Homo sapiens: one gene and its partners. The protein of the gene in region 4 interacts with the protein of the main gene of each other region in a biochemical or structural test. Each region holds a gene or a part of one and is shown on either strand. Other genes may lie near its edges.

Region 1 (3,350 bases), on a different chromosome or scaffold from region 4:
TTAAGCCACCTGTGGTTCTCTTAAGTTTCACTGAAGCCAGAAGAAGGAAATTACCACAACTTGTATTATACTAATTATCTTCATTATTAACGATCATATTAGAGCCACTGACATGTCCCAAATTATATTAAAATAAAAACCTGCATTGCTCTGACATGAAGCTCAATTCAATGTAATAAACAAATTAGGTATTAAACGTTATAATTTAAAAAACTTCTACGATATCACCAGAAATCCTGGTGAAATTTAATTTTTTCCCTTTTTTAGGTCAGTGGCCGGTGGGATAGATTTTTCTAAACTTTTTCCTGCTATGATTTTGAAGGCAAATACATAGAGCACAGTTCAGTAAAAGAGTTTCCAAGCCTTTTCACTGGAGCATTTACATTTTGATTCTGTTGTCATTTGAAATAGAACATCTGCAGGGAGATAATGAGCTTAAGTTACAATTGACTTTGGAAAGAATAACAGACTTTTGTGTTTCCTCAATCATGTAGTCAATAGGGAATTCTCCAGTTATGTGAACAATCACAGTCTTTTAAGACAATACTTAGATCTAAATGCAAAATCTAGCATGCAGAGGCTTTTTAAGGATTTTAGACTGTCTCCAAAGAACTTGGCTCGAGATGGATTACACAGATTTACAAATGCAGTTTTCAACTGTGACATCAAACTGATCTTATCTCATTTCATGTTACTCAACTGTGCCCGTAGGACCCCAAGAGGTGGAATATTTTGTCTACATTATTTTAAACATCTATAGATATGTGTGGATGTGTGAATAATGCCTAAATTTCTCATCTTTTAACTAGTTTGTTTTTATCATACAGACACAGCCTGTTCATAAGACCAGCTTTAGACAACTTAGAACTCAATGCTCTGAAGATTCAGGGAGGCCAACATAGAAAAAGATCTTCCAAAATATGGGGTGGTCCAACCCATCTCATCCCTCTCTAGCTGGAAAACTATAGAGAAAGGGCTGTGACTGCCTTGACCACTGCCTGGCACAATGTAGGCACTCGGTATTTGTTGGATGAATAAGTGGCTGAATCAGTGAATAGACAAAAAACATGGATTTTGCCTTCTGAAAATCTCACAAATTTTACCAGCTTATATTATACTGATTGTCACTATGATTTCTAAGTTTCATGGTTAGAACCATATTTTGAGTCTATATAAAAACTTTTTAGATGTATGAATTTGAAATTTCATTAATTACTTTAAAGGCTTCAAAGATTTGAGGACATTTGAACAGTGGATAAGGAACAATGTTTGGGGATACAGAGTTTTTATGCTGAGTTGAACTCAACCTTTCTAGTTCTTTATACAAGCTTCCTGAATTATCTGGCAGGAATGATTCAAACATAAAACCCCATTTTTAAATTTTATAAAAGATATTTTCATTTTTATATAAAAAGATCATCAGGCATATTATCCCCTTTGATATTTATTAACAACCATTCTCTAAGAAATTCATAATAATTGGAGACACCATCCCTAAATCTCTTCCTATTTTCAAAAGATCATTTATCCTTTCATATTTGATTCCTGGAATACACTAAGCTGAAGTTTAATCACATACTTACTCAGATGTTTCCATGTGTTTATTCATTTAACAAATACTTATTGTGTACCTAGTGCATGCTAGGTTCTGGAAATGCAACAGCAAACAAGACAGACACAATCCCTCTTGGAGGTTACTGTGAGAAACTCTCCAACATTTACTCTAGCAATAACTAGAGAGTTTACTGTCCATTGGGTCCTCTTCACACCTGATAGAAAAAATAAAATTCCTCACCCCATGGAAGTCATGAAATACTCCCTGCACAGATTTGTGTGAGCTTGCTTTTCTAAAACCACTGCTCAAAAATGCTGCTTAGTTTATCTATAAACCACGGTTATACCCCAGTGAGGTAGGTAAGTAATTTATTCATAACTAACATTTATGCAGCTCTATTTTCTAGCCACTGTGCTGAGTGCTTTTATGGACTATCTCACCAAATCCCTTCAACAACTCTATTCAGTAGGTTCCATTTTATAGATACAAAAACTGAAGCACAGATATATTATGTGACTTGTCCAAGGTCACACAGCTAGCAGGTGGAACTGGGATTTGAACCCATGCAATCTGACACAAGAGTTCATGTGTCTAATCATTATCTGTGGTTTGGGGGACACCATTACATTAAAATGAATGAGTCACTAAGTGAGTCACTGTATATAAAATACTTGGAAATTGTAAAGTAATATACAAAAGATATTAACAAAGTATTATTCATGGTAAACAAATCACATCAGTAGCAAACACAGGGTGGGAACTCAATCTTATGTTATAGCTTACTCTTAAGAAGAATATGTGAAGCCAGGAACATGGTTAAAGGTACAGACCAGAAAATTTCTGACATGTGATAAATATTTCAGTGACTTTTCAGATTTATTTCTTGTTAGCCGCTGTGTCTATTTGGTGCTACAAAAACTGAAAGAAACAAAATCCCTGATGTAAGGGCTTATAATAAATACACAGTTTGGAGATGAACTAAGGATATTTTACATTTACGGGAAAGGATTGGACAATAGTATCATTTTCTCACCATTTGCATGTACATCATGTCTTTCCAATTGTTTTCATTATTTTTCTGAAAGAGCTGCAAAATTGTGCAGTGGTTCAACCTGACCAAAGTGGTATTATGCTGCTGGGAAGTAAAAGTATTAGACACCAAACTGGAAGTATTGTTTTCATTATCAAATGACTTTAAGTTCTTTTAAAGCATGGATGTAAAAGAATTTTTAGATACTGAAGACACCTCAATATTGGGATGCTAAGTTTCTTGGGTTTCTCCATTCTTGACCACACAGTGGTGTCATTCTATTGAGGGCTTAGATTCTGTAAAGGAAAAGACAAATTTTTTTTTTTTTTGCTTTCTAGTCTCAAACTCAACATAGAACACTTCTGTGACCAAATGTAAAGGTTTCCCCACCCCCCCACCCCATCAATTTTCCAAGCAGGTACCAAATGGATGTCCTATAATTCAATTCAATTCTGAAACTATTTACTTGAAGATGGTGTAGATTCCACAGATTGAGGGCTCAGTCTCACAACACTTAGCCTACTTAAGATGCCAATTGCAAGTAGTAGGTTGTCACCTGTCCTTTGACTGGCTGGAGACTGAGATTCTCACAAGCCCTTCTTTGGGTTCAGCTGGGACAGCTCACAAAACTGAGGAAAACACCTACTTAGTTTACTGGTTTATTATAAAATGAATCATAAAGGGAATTTTTACCCAGTTCAAATTATATGGTCATGTAGTTACCAGAAACCTATATTCAAGAATGTTTATCAGTGTCCTTTCCAT
Region 2 (3,935 bases), on a different chromosome or scaffold from region 4:
GTAACTGTAAACAAGTATTGCATGCACATGAATGTCCAGAGGGATCTGTGAAGATGGTGCAGGGTATAGAATGACTCATCACTGTATCGAGCTGTTTTTTGCATGGCAGGATATTCAGCATCTCTGACTCCTGTCTGCTGAATGCCGGTAGCTCCCTTATGATCATTGTCATAATCAAAAACATCCCCAGTCTTTCTGAAAATTGCCCCTGGTGGGCACTGGTAGCCCCACGTAGAACCACTGGCCCAGCAGGCGTGATGTCTAGGGTTTCCTCAGACTCCAGGAGGGCCATTGTTCAGGTGGGAAGTGCGCCAGGCCGCTCACCAGGTGCACTGCCCTGCTGACCATCTTTCCTCTCTGGCTGCTGTTCCAGGCTCAGCTGATTGCACAGTCCATCGGACAGGCATTTAGCGTGGCATACCAGGAATTCCTCAGGGCCAATGGGATTAACCCCGAAGATCTCAGCCAGAAGGAGTATAGTGACCTGCTCAATACCCAGGACATGTACAACGATGACCTGATCCACTTCTCCAAGTCGGAAAACTGTAAAGATGTGGGTACTTACCTGAAGCTGTTCTCCAGGCTGGGTCAGCTGGGCAGGGGCTTGGAAAGTGGGGCACCCTGCCGCGGAAGTGAAGGGAGATCAATGGTGAGGAGTGCCGTATTGGCAGGACATCATGAAGTCGTTCACCCCCATCTCTCGCTCCCTGCTGTGGGGCCCTGTCATGAAATGCTATTGTGGACAGGTGTAAACAGAGAGGCAGCACATCCTCTGCTCCTGGTCATCCTGAGCTAAGTTTTGGGTGGGTCCCAGAGGCAGATAGGACCTGAACTCTGCTTGTACAAACACTGCAATCTAGGTAAGGGCACTGAAAAAGTTAAATGATGGTGCCAGGTACAGGCACTAATCAAAACCAACTACACTTGGACAAACAGAGAAGATCTCAAGTTTCAGACAAGAGGTGCTGTGCTTCTCTGGGGATGGCCTGTGGCTTCAAACTGAGCTATTCAGGAATGCCTGTAGGAAGATGAGGCTATCCAAGCTGGTCTGGCGATCTGGGGATTGTAGGGGCAAGCCGAGGGTGGGGTCTATGGAATGGTTGGAAGCCTGGAGATCAGAAAGCTCCACATTTGTCTAGGGAATGAGGAAATACGGTTTGGCTAGAGCAGGAGGTAGGCACAGGAAAGGAGATAGATGGGCCTGAGATCTGGGTCAGAACTGGAGGGCCTGCAAGTCCAGCTGAGGGGTTTGGACTTGATCCCATAGGTAAAAAGAACTTTTAATGAGAAAGTGATCATTTGATCCACTGGGGTCTGTCAGGTGTCTTAGGTCAGATTCCCCAGAAGCAGAGCCTGAGGCAGGGATTCTTGTCACAGAGGTTTGTTGGGAGAGTGCCTCAGAACAGAAGGGATGTGGGAAGCTTGGTGGTGGGACACCAAGTAAGGGTGTGGTCCCTTGGACATGAGCTTCCTTCTGTCCAGAGGGAAGCTCCATGGCACATATTGCAGGACAGATTTGTCTCACCTTGGAGCGAGGGAGCTGGCAAGCCTTTGTACCCCATGCCGGTTATTGGCCAAGGCTGGACAGGGGGTATATGAATTTACTAGGGCTGTTGTCACAAAGTACCATGGACTGGGTGACTTCAACAACACAAACCTATTGTCTCACAGACCTTGTGGCCAGAAGTCCAAAAGCAAGGTGTTGTTAGCATTGGTTCCTTCTGAGAGCCGTGAGAGAAGAATCTGTTCCAAGCCTTTCTCTGGCTTGTAGATGGCTGTCTTCATGCTGTGTCTTCACATCAGCCTTTCTCCATGCATGTCCCTATGTCCAAATTTCCTCTTTTTTTTTTTGATACCCATGACAGACAACCATTCCTCTTCTTAAATAAGGACATGAGTAATATTGGATTAGAGTCCATATTAATCACCTCATTTAAAATTGGTTACCTCTGCTAAGACCTTATCTCCAAATAAAGTCACAATCTAAGTCAAAGGCACTGGGGGTTGGTAATTCAACATACAAATTTTGGGGGGACACAATTCAACCTTAACAGAATGTGTCTCCCTTTCAGCTAAGGACAGTTCTCCAGGGAAGGGGCTGACTGTAAGCTTCAGCAGCTGGGGGAAGCAGACACCAACCTGTGAAGGGGACTTTGTCAAGCCCCCCAAAAATACACATACACACTCTGTTGGGTGCTTCCAAGAGGTGTGGTACCTTTTAGTGGCATATCTGCAGGCCTCCCCAGAGTGCAAGTATCCAACATCAACCCCTGTCTTCTCTGCCCTGCCAGTGAAGGTTGTGAAAAGTCTGTGTATCCAGGATATGCACTTCCTGTGTGCACACCCAGCCTTTTGGTTGTGATAACTTCAGCATCACTTTTTCTTTTTTCTCAACTTTTTCCTTGCAGAGAAGTGTTTCTGTGTGTTTATTTATTTTTAACTCAAGAAAATTAAATGTCGGAGCGAATTGGGGAAGCACTGTGGGAGGGGGAACCTGCGCATGGAATTTGAAAAGCTATTTCTAGAAACCATAACACACCACCCACCCACAGAGCCTCATCCCCTGCCACTGAGGACAGGACTGAAGAAATTAAAAAAAAAAAAAAAAAAAAAAAAAACTGGTGGTCCTCATGGTTGTGTGCTGAGGCAAGTTTGCTTATGTGAAACGAGTGAATTACAAAAGAGTGTAGACCTGTGTGAATTCATTTCTTAAAAACTCCAAATATGCGGAATGCTGAGAAGACAGGAACTCATCTGGGTTGGTGTCCCCAGGGAAGTGTCTTTCTTTAGGCAAGACAGGAATGGGGGAGAGGCTTTCATTTCTACCTACCCCAGATGGTCACTGATGGAGGTTTTCTAAATGTTTTTCTCCTTCCAGGTTTTCATAGAGAAGCAGAAAGGAGAAATCCTAGGTGTGGTGATTGTGGAGTCTGGCTGGGGATCCATCCTCCCCACCGTGATCATTGCCAACATGATGCATGGTGGCCCTGCGGAGAAATCTGGGAAGCTGAATATCGGTGACCAGATCATGTCCATTAATGGCACCAGCCTGGTGGGCCTGCCTCTGTCCACCTGCCAGAGCATTATTAAGGTACCTGAATATGGGAAAAATCAGTTGATGTGGTAAACCTCAAGTGATGTGAAGTGTGACCCCCATCCAGTCATTAATGTATATGAACATATTCAAAGTGTCAGGCACCAAGGAAGACACAAACACAAAAGGCGTGGACTTGCACTCAGGAAGCTTACCATCAAGTTACTGTTTACAGATTCTTCCCTGAAATCAATTTAGATTAGGGGAAGTGTATTTGGTTCACATGACACTACTTTCTGATAGCAGCATGTCCATCACAGCATCACTAGTCAATCACAGCATTCTCCCACTAAGCCCAGACTCAGCCTCAACAGAAATGGCCTCAGCTTGGGAATCCAGACAGTCACTTATAGTCAGCCAGATACACTTGGCATGATTTACCATCCCTGTCAAAAATGTCAGAAATGCTTCAAATCTGAGAGTGCTTTTTCCTTCCCAGTGGCCCTGACTATGATGCAGGTGAGTTTGTCCTCCCTCAGACCCCGGGTAAAGCAACTCACATGTGCTCATTGCCAGAAGGAGGAGGAAACTCTCTTCCAGTCCATGGAAGCTTTTTCATACCTGAGCATACTTCCTGCTCAACCTGAACTGATGCTTATAAAGCTAAGAAGAGCTACTTAAAGGAAAATTAAATGTGAATACTTGAGAAGAAATGAGATTTTCTTTAGACATGAAGCATTCATGTGGAGTTTTTTGAGCACATTGGGACTTGCTGAATGCATGGCCAGTGTGACCAGGATGTTCCTCCTCCATGATGGCATCTGTAGACCCCAGTAGCTCTGCACCAAGTGCTGCGGTACTGTAGCTAGACTGAGATTCCACAGCGTTTTTTGGGGTCCTG
Region 3 (3,935 bases), on a different chromosome or scaffold from region 4:
GAAGAAAAGGCTCTCTGTCCGCGTCACTGGAGGGCTCCCCCAGCTGCCGGGGGCTGGCTCCGTGGTGGACGCTGACCTTGGGGATGGCAAGAGCAGATGGTGGTGTTTTTGTTTTTTTTAAGTCTGGGCCACAGCAGTTTAGGAAATTCTGATAGCTGGCGTGGATAGAAAGTGAGCAGACAGGGTTGGAGCTGAGATTGTTTTTAGCTGAAAAGAAGAAGCCTTCCAGCAGATCTGTGCTGTAGAAATGTGGGCCATGGTCCTATTGGTGGGGAATGGGGAGCAGTGGCCCCGCAGGAGGCCCAAGGAGACCCTGGGCGAGGGGGGTCATTCCCACCTCCAGACACGAGTGCTAGACTGCGTTCAGTTTGTGAAATTCACTGAGCTGCATGCTTAGAATGCTGTGTTTATGTTCTATTCCAATGCAAAGTTTGATGTTTTATTTATTTAGAGACTGGGGCTCGCTCTGTTGCCCAGCCTGGAGTGCAGGGCATGATCCCGGCTTACTGCAGCCGCGACTTCTAGGCTGAAGCAACTCTCCCGCCTCTGCCTCCCGAGTAGCTGGGACTACAGTTACTCACCACCATGCCCAGCTAATGATTTTCTAATTTTTTTAGAGATAGGGTCTTGTTATATTGCCCAGGCTGGTCTCGAACTCCTAGCGTCAAGCAATCCTCCCACCTCCCAAAGTGCTGGGATTGCTGGCATGAGCCACCATGCCAACATTTGGTGGAATTTTTTTTTAAGTGATGCCTTCAGCAAAGCAGAAATTGCCCTTTCTCAAAATGATGAGCTCATGGTTGAGAACCTTGCAGATACTCCTGGGACCTGCCAGCCTCGCCGCCTCACCCTTCATGTGTTCCCTACCCTCTTACTTGAAGGCTGGCTAGGGTAGCAGGTGTTTTGGGGTGTGTGTGTGTGTGCGTGTGTGTGTATGTGTGTGTGTGTGTGTTTGAGACAGTGTCTCACTCTGTCACCCAGGCTGGAATGCAGTGGCACCATCTCGGCTCACCGCAACCTCCACCTCCCGGGTTCAAGTGATTCTCCTGCCTCAGCCTCCCGAGTAGCTGGGATTACAGGCGTGGGCCACCGCACCCAGCTAATTTTTATACTTTTAGTAGAGACAGGGTTTTGCCGTGTTGGCCAGGCTGGTCTCGAACTCCTGACCCCAAGTGATCGGCCCGCCTGGGCCTCCCAAAGTGCTGGGATTACAGGCGTGAGCCACCACGCCCGGCTGGTAGCAGGTGTTTCATTCAAACTCATTCACGCCACCTGGTTCACCCCGTCCGGGGCCTCATCTCTGCCCATGAACATCACTGTGGTCAGCAGAGTCCTGGAGTGTCCAGACTCATGTGGGGGTCTCATCTCCTGGATCAGCGGCAGGTGGCTTTCAGGGCTCCCGCCCCGCTATAGACCCCAACCCTGCATCCAGGCCCCGCTGCAGGCACCTTCACAGGAGCGGGAGGTGGGTGGGCTGCTGCTGACCAAAGCCGCTGTGCCCGCAGAACAAGCACTGCCTGCTGGAGGCTGGGATCGGCTGCACAAGAGACTTGATCAAGTCCAACATCTACCCCATCGTGCTCTTCATCCGGGTGTGTGAGAAGAACATCAAGAGGTTCAGGTAGGGCTCCCAGACCCCTAAGGGCTGTCCCCTCCTGTCCCTAGCACCCCACCAAGCCTCCATGGATCGCAGGAGGCCTGTGTGCCCCCACCTCATGCACCCCTTTTGTAAACCCTCACCAAGTACGGGACTGACCTTGCAGAGCTGATGCCAAGGACAGCGGCCGAGATGGTGACTCACATATGGGGCGCATCCCAGGGGACAAGAGCTGGGAGGGACGGGGCGGAGTGCCCATCACCCAGGGTGGTCCGGGAAGGCCTGGGGTATCCATCAGCGAGACCCATGGCAGTGAGGGGGGCCTAGGAGATGAGAAAGAAGACGCAATCTGGGCAGCAGGGGAACAGCTGGTGCTCAGACCCTGAGACAGATGTTTGGGCGGAATGGTGAGGGACGGAGGGGTGAGGGGCGGAGTGGTGAGGGACAGAGGGGTGAGAGGCTGAGGAGTGAGGGGCGGAGGGTGAGGGACGGAGAGTGAGAGGCTGAGGGGTGAGGGGCGCAGGGGTGAGAGGCAGAGGGTGAGGGGTGGAGGGGTGAGGGGCGCAGGGGTGAGGGGCGGAGGGGTGAGAGGCTGGGGAGTGAGGGGCAGAGGGTGAGGGACAGAGGGGTGAGAGGCTGAGGAGTGAGGGGCGGAGGGTGAGGGACGGAGAGTGAGAGGCTGAGGGGTGAGGGGCAGCGGGTCCAGGCCATGCAGGGCCACGGGAGGCTGCGACATCTTGTTCTGGGTGCATCTGGAGGCCACTGAAGGTGGCATGGTCCACTTTAGGGTATAAACGCACCTCTCACCTCTGGACACGGGCAGGGTGGCGGTGTGGGCCGGGCTTCTGTCTGAGAGGCGATGAGAGGCAGTCTGACTCCGAATCCGTGTTCAGGGTCGAGCCTGCAGGATTCGGGAAAGGGTTCACTCTGGGGTTCCAGAGAACCAGAGGCTGGGCGCGGTGGCTCACGCCTATAATCCCCACACTTTGGGAGGCCAAGGTGGGCACATCAGCTGAAGTTGGTAGTTTGAGACCAGCTTGGCCAACATGGTGAAACCCCATCTCTACTAAAAATACAAAAAAAATTAGCTGGGCGTGGTGGCGGGCACCTGTAGTCCCAGCTACTCAGGAGGCAGAAGCAGGAGAATCGCTTGAACGTGGGAGGGGCAGGTTGCAGTGAGCTGAGATCGAGCCACTGCACTCCAGCCTGGGCGACAGAGTGAGACTCCATCTCAGAAAAAAAAAAACAAAAAAAAAAAAACGAAAGGACGGCGCTGAGGTTTGGGGCCTGGGTGATGAGGACAGACTGGCCCTTAAGTGGCTTCATCTCGGATCCCCGCCCCTCCTCGCACGCACCTGCAAAATAAATGTCCTGCCACCATTTTGCAGAGGGAATCACAGACTGAGAGTTTAGGCCCATTCATTCCTTTTCACCAGATACTCACTGAGCCATTGTGAAGGGTTAGGCTCTGGGGAACGCAGCAGTGAGCAAAAGAGACGGGCATCCCCCTCGATACCTCACACCCGTTAGGCTGGCCAGGACCAAAAGGACAGAAACTGACAAGTGTTGACGAGGAGGGTAGACGTCGGAACCCGGTGCACAGCTGCTGGAAATGCAAAAGAGAGCGGCCACTGTGGAGGACAGCATGGCGATGCCCCCAAAAATTAAAAATAGAATACTATATAATCCAGCAACCCCACCTGCGGGCATATCCCCAAGAGAATTGAGAGCAGGGTCTGTAAGAGACATATACACGCCCGTGTTCACAGCAGCGTTACTCCCAATAGCCAAAACGTAGACGTCACCTAAGGGTCGGTCTGTGGGGAGTGAATACACACAATAGGGCCCATCCATACAGGCTAGGAAGGTGGCAAGAGCTGAAAACCTTGCAAACTGTTAACAAAAAAAGAGTTGAAACAAAGAAACAATAATACATTTAATGCATGAGAAATACTAGCATGGTACATACCCCCTTCCCTGATCTGTCCTGCCTGGGAATGTGTTTATGGTGCAGTGTGTATCACAACAAAAATACTGTATGGAGTATTTTTTTTTTTTTGAGACGGAGTCTCACTCTGTCACCCAGGCTGAAGTGCAGTGGCACGATCTCGGCTCACTGCAGCCTCCACCTCCCAGGTTCAAGAGATTCTCCTACCTCAGCCTCCCGAGTAGCTGGGATTACAGGTGCCCACCACCATGCCTGGCTAATTTGTGTATTTTTACTAGAGATTGGGTTTCACCATGTTGGCCAGCTGGTCTCGAACTCCTGACTTCAAGTGATCCTCCTGCCTCGGCCTCCCAGAGTGCTGGGATTACAGGCCTGAGCCACCGCACCCGG
Region 4 (5,424 bases):
ACTGAGGCTCAGAAGGGTCAAGGAACTTGACAAAAGTTATACAGACAGCACAATTAGAGGCCAAGTCAATGGTTTCCTACTGCCCAAACCTGTGCTTTACAATATATATCTGACCACTCTTTTCTTTTCTTTTCTTTATCTGGATATATTGGGAACACTACTTTTGGGGCTATCAGCCATGATTAGAGTTATGTGCCAGATCACAAGGAAACTAAGATTGGGAAACTAGGAGAGGTGGTACAAGGGAGAGAAGGAAGGAGGAAGGGACAGAGAATTTTGTTAGGCAAAAGTTCAACTAAGAAACCACATACGTCAGTGCTTCTCAAACTGTACTGTGCACTCAAATCACCTGAAACTCGTTAAAATGAAGATTATTATTCAGCAGATCTAGGGAGGGGCCTGAGATCCTGCATTTCTAAAAAGCTCCCAGGTGTGCTGCTCCTGCTGGCCCACGGACAACACTTTGAACAGTAAGGCCATATAGTGCAAATGATAAACAAAAAAATTCAAGCATCCATTAACACCTGCTTCCTAATTTAATCCAGATCAGCTTCTACACTAAACAGTCACTTATTATCCTCTTTTCTCCTGTAGCCTGTCTCAGGCCATTGTCTCCGCTTTAGTTCTGCCAGTCTGTTTCAGCTTATGTTTGTTTATTTATTTATTTGTACAAATTTAAGGGGTTCGAGTGCAGTTTTGGTACATGGATATATTGCAGAGTGGTGAAGTCTGGGCTTTTAATGTAACCGTCACCCAAACAGTGTAGATTGTACCCATTAAGTAATTTCTCATCTCTCACCTCCATGACATGTTTATGTTTAACTACTCATTTAAATACAGGTGTTAAATACATATGAACATCTTCTGTCACTCTGAGCACTAGGCAGTCTCAATCAGACATGAATTTCTCTTGGCACAAAGTAGATATTTGGCCACAGGGTTCCAGTCCTCAACAATGGCTCTCAGCTCTCTCACCCATTAGGAACAGTCTTATAAAGGTAAGGCATGTAGTAACACTACTGTCCCAGCGCTTTCTAATTTCCTTTCTTAGAGCTACTGCCTTCATCTGGAGCAGAAAGTAGCCTGGCTTTTTAAAGAGTCCAGATCCTTGTTCCTTTCACATAGTTGAAACAATCCCAGCATTAGTTTAAGGCAACCATTGAAAAGATTCTTTGCAGAGTCCTGCCAACTCCAAAAGCCCAGTGAAGTTTGTTTCCTGGAAGATAATTTACTTTATTTTGCCACCTCCTCTCCTCCGTCCTCTTAGGATTTTGACTGATCATTTTGAGCCATTCTTCATGTTTTTCTTCTATTTTTAGACTCTCTGACTAATTTTCTCCAGTAGCAAGAGTCAAGGAAAGCTTTCCACTCCAACCAAGCTCTACTTTTTAGGTAGGAAATATTCTCTCACAGTGTTTACAGATCAACTTGGTGATCTGTGGTCCCTGGCAACTGGATTGCTTTTCTATCTTCTCTTTAACCTTTGGGGATGTTAACCTTGGGGGTGACCCTTCTAACACCTTTAGCAGGTAGGTGTTCATTGCAGCCTCCACATGAATAGATTAGGTAAGTTCACATTCTATCACTGGATGAATTAAAAACTCTGCTAAAAAAGAATTGTAATCTTCTGTTTTTAACTTCTATCCATTAATCTTACTTTTATCATATGGAGCAGAAATAGCACTTTCAATATTTCAAGACATTTGTCATATCCTCCTTTAACCATCTCTTTGCTAGACTAAACATCCCCAATTTCTAATCAGTCCTCAGTTACTTCTTGACCCTTCATTCATTCAATAAACATCAGATGCACTATGATTTGTAAATGTTCACTTTAAAATACAGTACCTCGAAATGGAACGTAGTGCTCGCTGTGTAGTTTGACCAGCATGGAGCACATTGGGACTGCCACTCCTTGTGATGGTCTGATGCAATTTCATGATCATACCAGCTTAAAAAAGAGTAACTCACTTCTTCACATCTAGTGAGTACCTACTTTGGGTCAGGTACCTAACATCAACTAGAAACCTCTGTTTTCAGTGGTAGAGGTTCTCTGTTCTTTCTTACCCCATGGGGCCTGGAGATGGTACAGCCACCCTCTTCCAATCCTTCCTACTATCATCTGCTGTACTTTAGTTCTCTCACCTATTGAGGACTTCACCTCCTCACTGATAGTCTTCCTTTCCACCCCAACTCTAGCCACCATCCTGAGTGATCTTAATGTCCTCATAGATGACCCATTTATAAGCTTCATCCTTTCAATCATTTTACCTCCACTCTGCTTCACCAACTATTTTCAATGATCCACTTTATTCTCAGCAGATGATCTCACCTCTTATTCCATTATGAAAATCTAGGTCGTTGGATGCTAACACTCATTTTCCTGTCCTAACCCCACCCTGCCACATAGTTGTGTCCCTACATGTCCTAACCTCTTTTTTTTTTTTTTTTTTTTTTTGGGCTTGCAGAAATACACATAGCTTCTCCAGTTCAAGGCTAATTTCTCTACGTATGCTTTGGAGCCCATTCTTTCTCACCTCCATGAGGACTTACTTCATCAGTTATCCCTCCTCTCATCTGTGTCTTCAACAACTCCTTCTCTACTTACTGGCTGCTTCCCATCAACCTTCAGGCATGATCAACTTTCACTCTAAAAAAAGAAACAAACAAATTTTCCTTCGCCTCTATCCCCAACTGGCATTTGCCCTATTTCTCTTCTTTTATTGTTATGGAATCTTTTCTAAAGTGTAGACACTCTCCATTTCCTCACCTCCTGTTAAAAACTCAGCTCCCACTATGGCTTTTCTGTTCCCAGAACACCACTGTTATTTCTCTTTTAAGTAAACCAATGACATCCTAATTGCCAAATCTAATGAACAATGTTAAGTCTTTATTTTACTGGACCTCTCTCTGATGTATTTAACATAATTGATTGCTCTCACCCTACTTCTGTCCTCATGACTCTCATGACCTACTCCTTGGCTTTGGTGATGTTGCACATCTTCTGACTGTCCTCATTCCTCTCTGATTACTCCTTCTTATGCTGTTTTGTGGACTTTTCGTCTGCCACCCCTTAAATGCCAGTCTTTCCCAGGTTTTTTCATTCCTCACCTTTCCCCTAGATCATCTCATCCATACCCATGGTTTTATCTACCATCCTATTGAGCCCCAAATCTGTGTCTGTGGTCCCAGACACAGACCTCTCTTGAGAGCTCCAAACCCATATACTAGTTAATACTTGACACGTGTAATATGGCACATCCTACAGGTACCTCAAGACCAAACTCAGTATGTTCCAAATTCATCTTTTTTATTCCAATCTGCCCTTCCTCCTCTGTCTGCCCAACTGACACCATTTTGGTGACTCAGACCTCTATCTACACAGTTGACCTCTATCTACACAGTGCTGAAACTCGGTAGTCATCCTGAATTTCTCATTCAACCAGTCACCAAGACCTGTTCAGTCTGTCTTCTAAGTATCTATCTGAGATGTGTTTCCTTTATGTTACTACAGCATATTATTAGTCCAGGCTTTCCATAATCTTTTTGTTTTTTAACCATTCAAATAGCTCCGTAACTGGTCTTCCTGCCTCTTGGCCTGCTCCCCCTTAGTCTATCCTTCACACTGTGATAGAATGCATTTTCTCTAATGCAAATCAGATCACATCACTCCTCTGCTTGAAGCCCTATCATGGTTCCCACTGCTTACTGGTACAGTCCAAGCTGCTCCACAAGGCTTACAAGGCCCCTCACAATCTGGCCTTGCCTACCCTTCCAATCTTATCTCCTATCATCTTTTCCTTATTTTCTTTGCCCAAATAACGTCAGACTGAACACCCCCCATCACGCCTTCATGCCTTCATACACACTGTTCTCTCTGCCTAGAATGACCCCTTGGTCTTCCAGTCAAATCTTTATTCAGCTTTCAAAATTGGACTCAGACTATGTCTGGGTAGATACACAAGAAACTAGTGACAATGATTGGGTGGCTGGGGCACAGGAGTGGGAAGAAGACTTCCTTTTTCCACCTATTTGTACATTCTGCATTTTGTAACACAAATCTGAATTCACTATTCAAAAAAGTAAATACTACGTAAATTTTTTGTTAAAAAAGCTCAGGAATCAGGTCCTTTAGAAAGTTGTTTTCCCCTCCTCATCCTCCTCTGTAGTTTTGTACTCCCTTCTTTGTGCTACCTCTGGGCCTACTGTGTGCTCCTGTGATTAGAATAATTACATTGCATTGCAATTTGTATGTTAAGTTGTCCATCTCCCCAGATTGTGAGCTACCTGAGGGAAAGGGCTGCATCTTACTTTTTATTGTTTCCCCAGAATTTAACATAGTGCTCTATAAATGTTGATTGAATGAATGGAGAAACAAGTGAAGAGAAGAATAAAGTAGAGGATGCCCCACATTATAAAACAAAGCTCCCATGCCAGTTATCTTTCCCAATATCCATCAATCTGTCCTTTTGCCACGTGTTGAGCTTGAAAGTAATACTTTACATTTATACTTTTTTTTTTTTCTGAGACAGGGTCTCACTCTGTCACCCAGGCTGGAGTGCAATGGCACAATTATGGCTCACTTCAGCCTCGATCTCCTGGGCTCTAGATCCTCCTACCTCAGCCTTCCAAGTAGCTGGGACTATAGTCACATGCCACCACGCCATGCTAATATTTGTAATCTGTTGTAAAGATGAGGTTTCACCATGTTGCCCAGGCTGGTCTTGAACTCCTGGGATTAAGCAATCCACCTGCCTCGGCCTCCCAAAGTGCTGGGATTGCAGGCGTGAGCCACTGCACCCGGCCTTACATTTATTCTTAAGTACTATCCATCAATTATCTTGTCAATTTGGGCTCAGCATCATGTAAGACTGCCCAGATCATTTCAAAGTCCCTCTTATTTTTGTGTTATGTGTAGATTTGATATGTATTTGTATATCCTATTTTGAATCACTTGATCAGAATATTGATACAATACCTATTGCTTATTGAACACCTACAGTGTGTCAAACACTGTGCTGGGTGTTTTTACATATGACATTGTCACAGTATTTGTTGCAAGATAGGTATTTTGCTCTCCAGTTTACAGATGAGAAGATTGAAATCAGTATTGTTAAGTGCCCTGCCTAGGGTCATATTGCTAGTAAATGGTGAAGTTGAGATTTGAACCAAGGTCTTTTGACTTCAAAATTCATGCTTGAGTCATAACACTACATTGATTCAAAGGGGCATCTCCACTGCTTCACTACTGGGTGCCTAGCTCAAGGCAGCCCATTGTCTTTGGACTGCTCTGACCATTTTAAAAGCTCTTGTTTGTAGTGAGCCAAGTTATAAATGAGCCAAACAAGACATGGCCAATAACAGAGCCTTTGGCTCTCTGCTAGAACCTTCCTTCCAGTCTGACACCAAACCATGTGTTCGCTT

Evidence for each region.
Region 1: the proteins of NCBP2L (region 4) and LIN7A interact in a test that uses a peptide from one of them, tested with the Homo sapiens proteins (one large-scale study listed by IntAct).
Region 2: the proteins of NCBP2L (region 4) and APBA1 interact in a test that uses a peptide from one of them, tested with the Homo sapiens proteins (one large-scale study listed by IntAct).
Region 3: the proteins of NCBP2L (region 4) and CARD11 interact in a test that uses a peptide from one of them, tested with the Homo sapiens proteins (one large-scale study listed by IntAct).

What each region holds. Positions count from the first base shown.
Region 1 is NC_000012.12:80,791,888-80,795,237, reverse strand, and holds the end of LIN7A (protein lin-7 homolog A), read left to right. Parts: 3' UTR 1-2,718; downstream 2,719-3,350. UniProt on the Homo sapiens protein: Plays a role in establishing and maintaining the asymmetric distribution of channels and receptors at the plasma membrane of polarized cells.
Region 2 is NC_000009.12:69,448,740-69,452,674, reverse strand, and holds part of APBA1 (amyloid-beta A4 precursor protein-binding family A member 1), read left to right. Parts: intron 1-373; coding exon 374-553; intron 554-2,878; coding exon 2,879-3,091; intron 3,092-3,935. UniProt on the Homo sapiens protein: Putative function in synaptic vesicle exocytosis by binding to Munc18-1, an essential component of the synaptic vesicle exocytotic machinery. May modulate processing of the amyloid-beta precursor protein (APP) and hence formation of APP-beta.
Region 3 is NC_000007.14:2,907,736-2,911,670, reverse strand, and holds part of CARD11 (caspase recruitment domain-containing protein 11), read left to right. Parts: intron 1-1,505; coding exon 1,506-1,621; intron 1,622-3,935. UniProt on the Homo sapiens protein: Adapter protein that plays a key role in adaptive immune response by transducing the activation of NF-kappa-B downstream of T-cell receptor (TCR) and B-cell receptor (BCR) engagement.
Region 4 is NC_000023.11:107,786,740-107,792,163, forward strand, and holds part of NCBP2L (nuclear cap-binding protein subunit 2-like), read left to right. Parts: intron 1-5,424.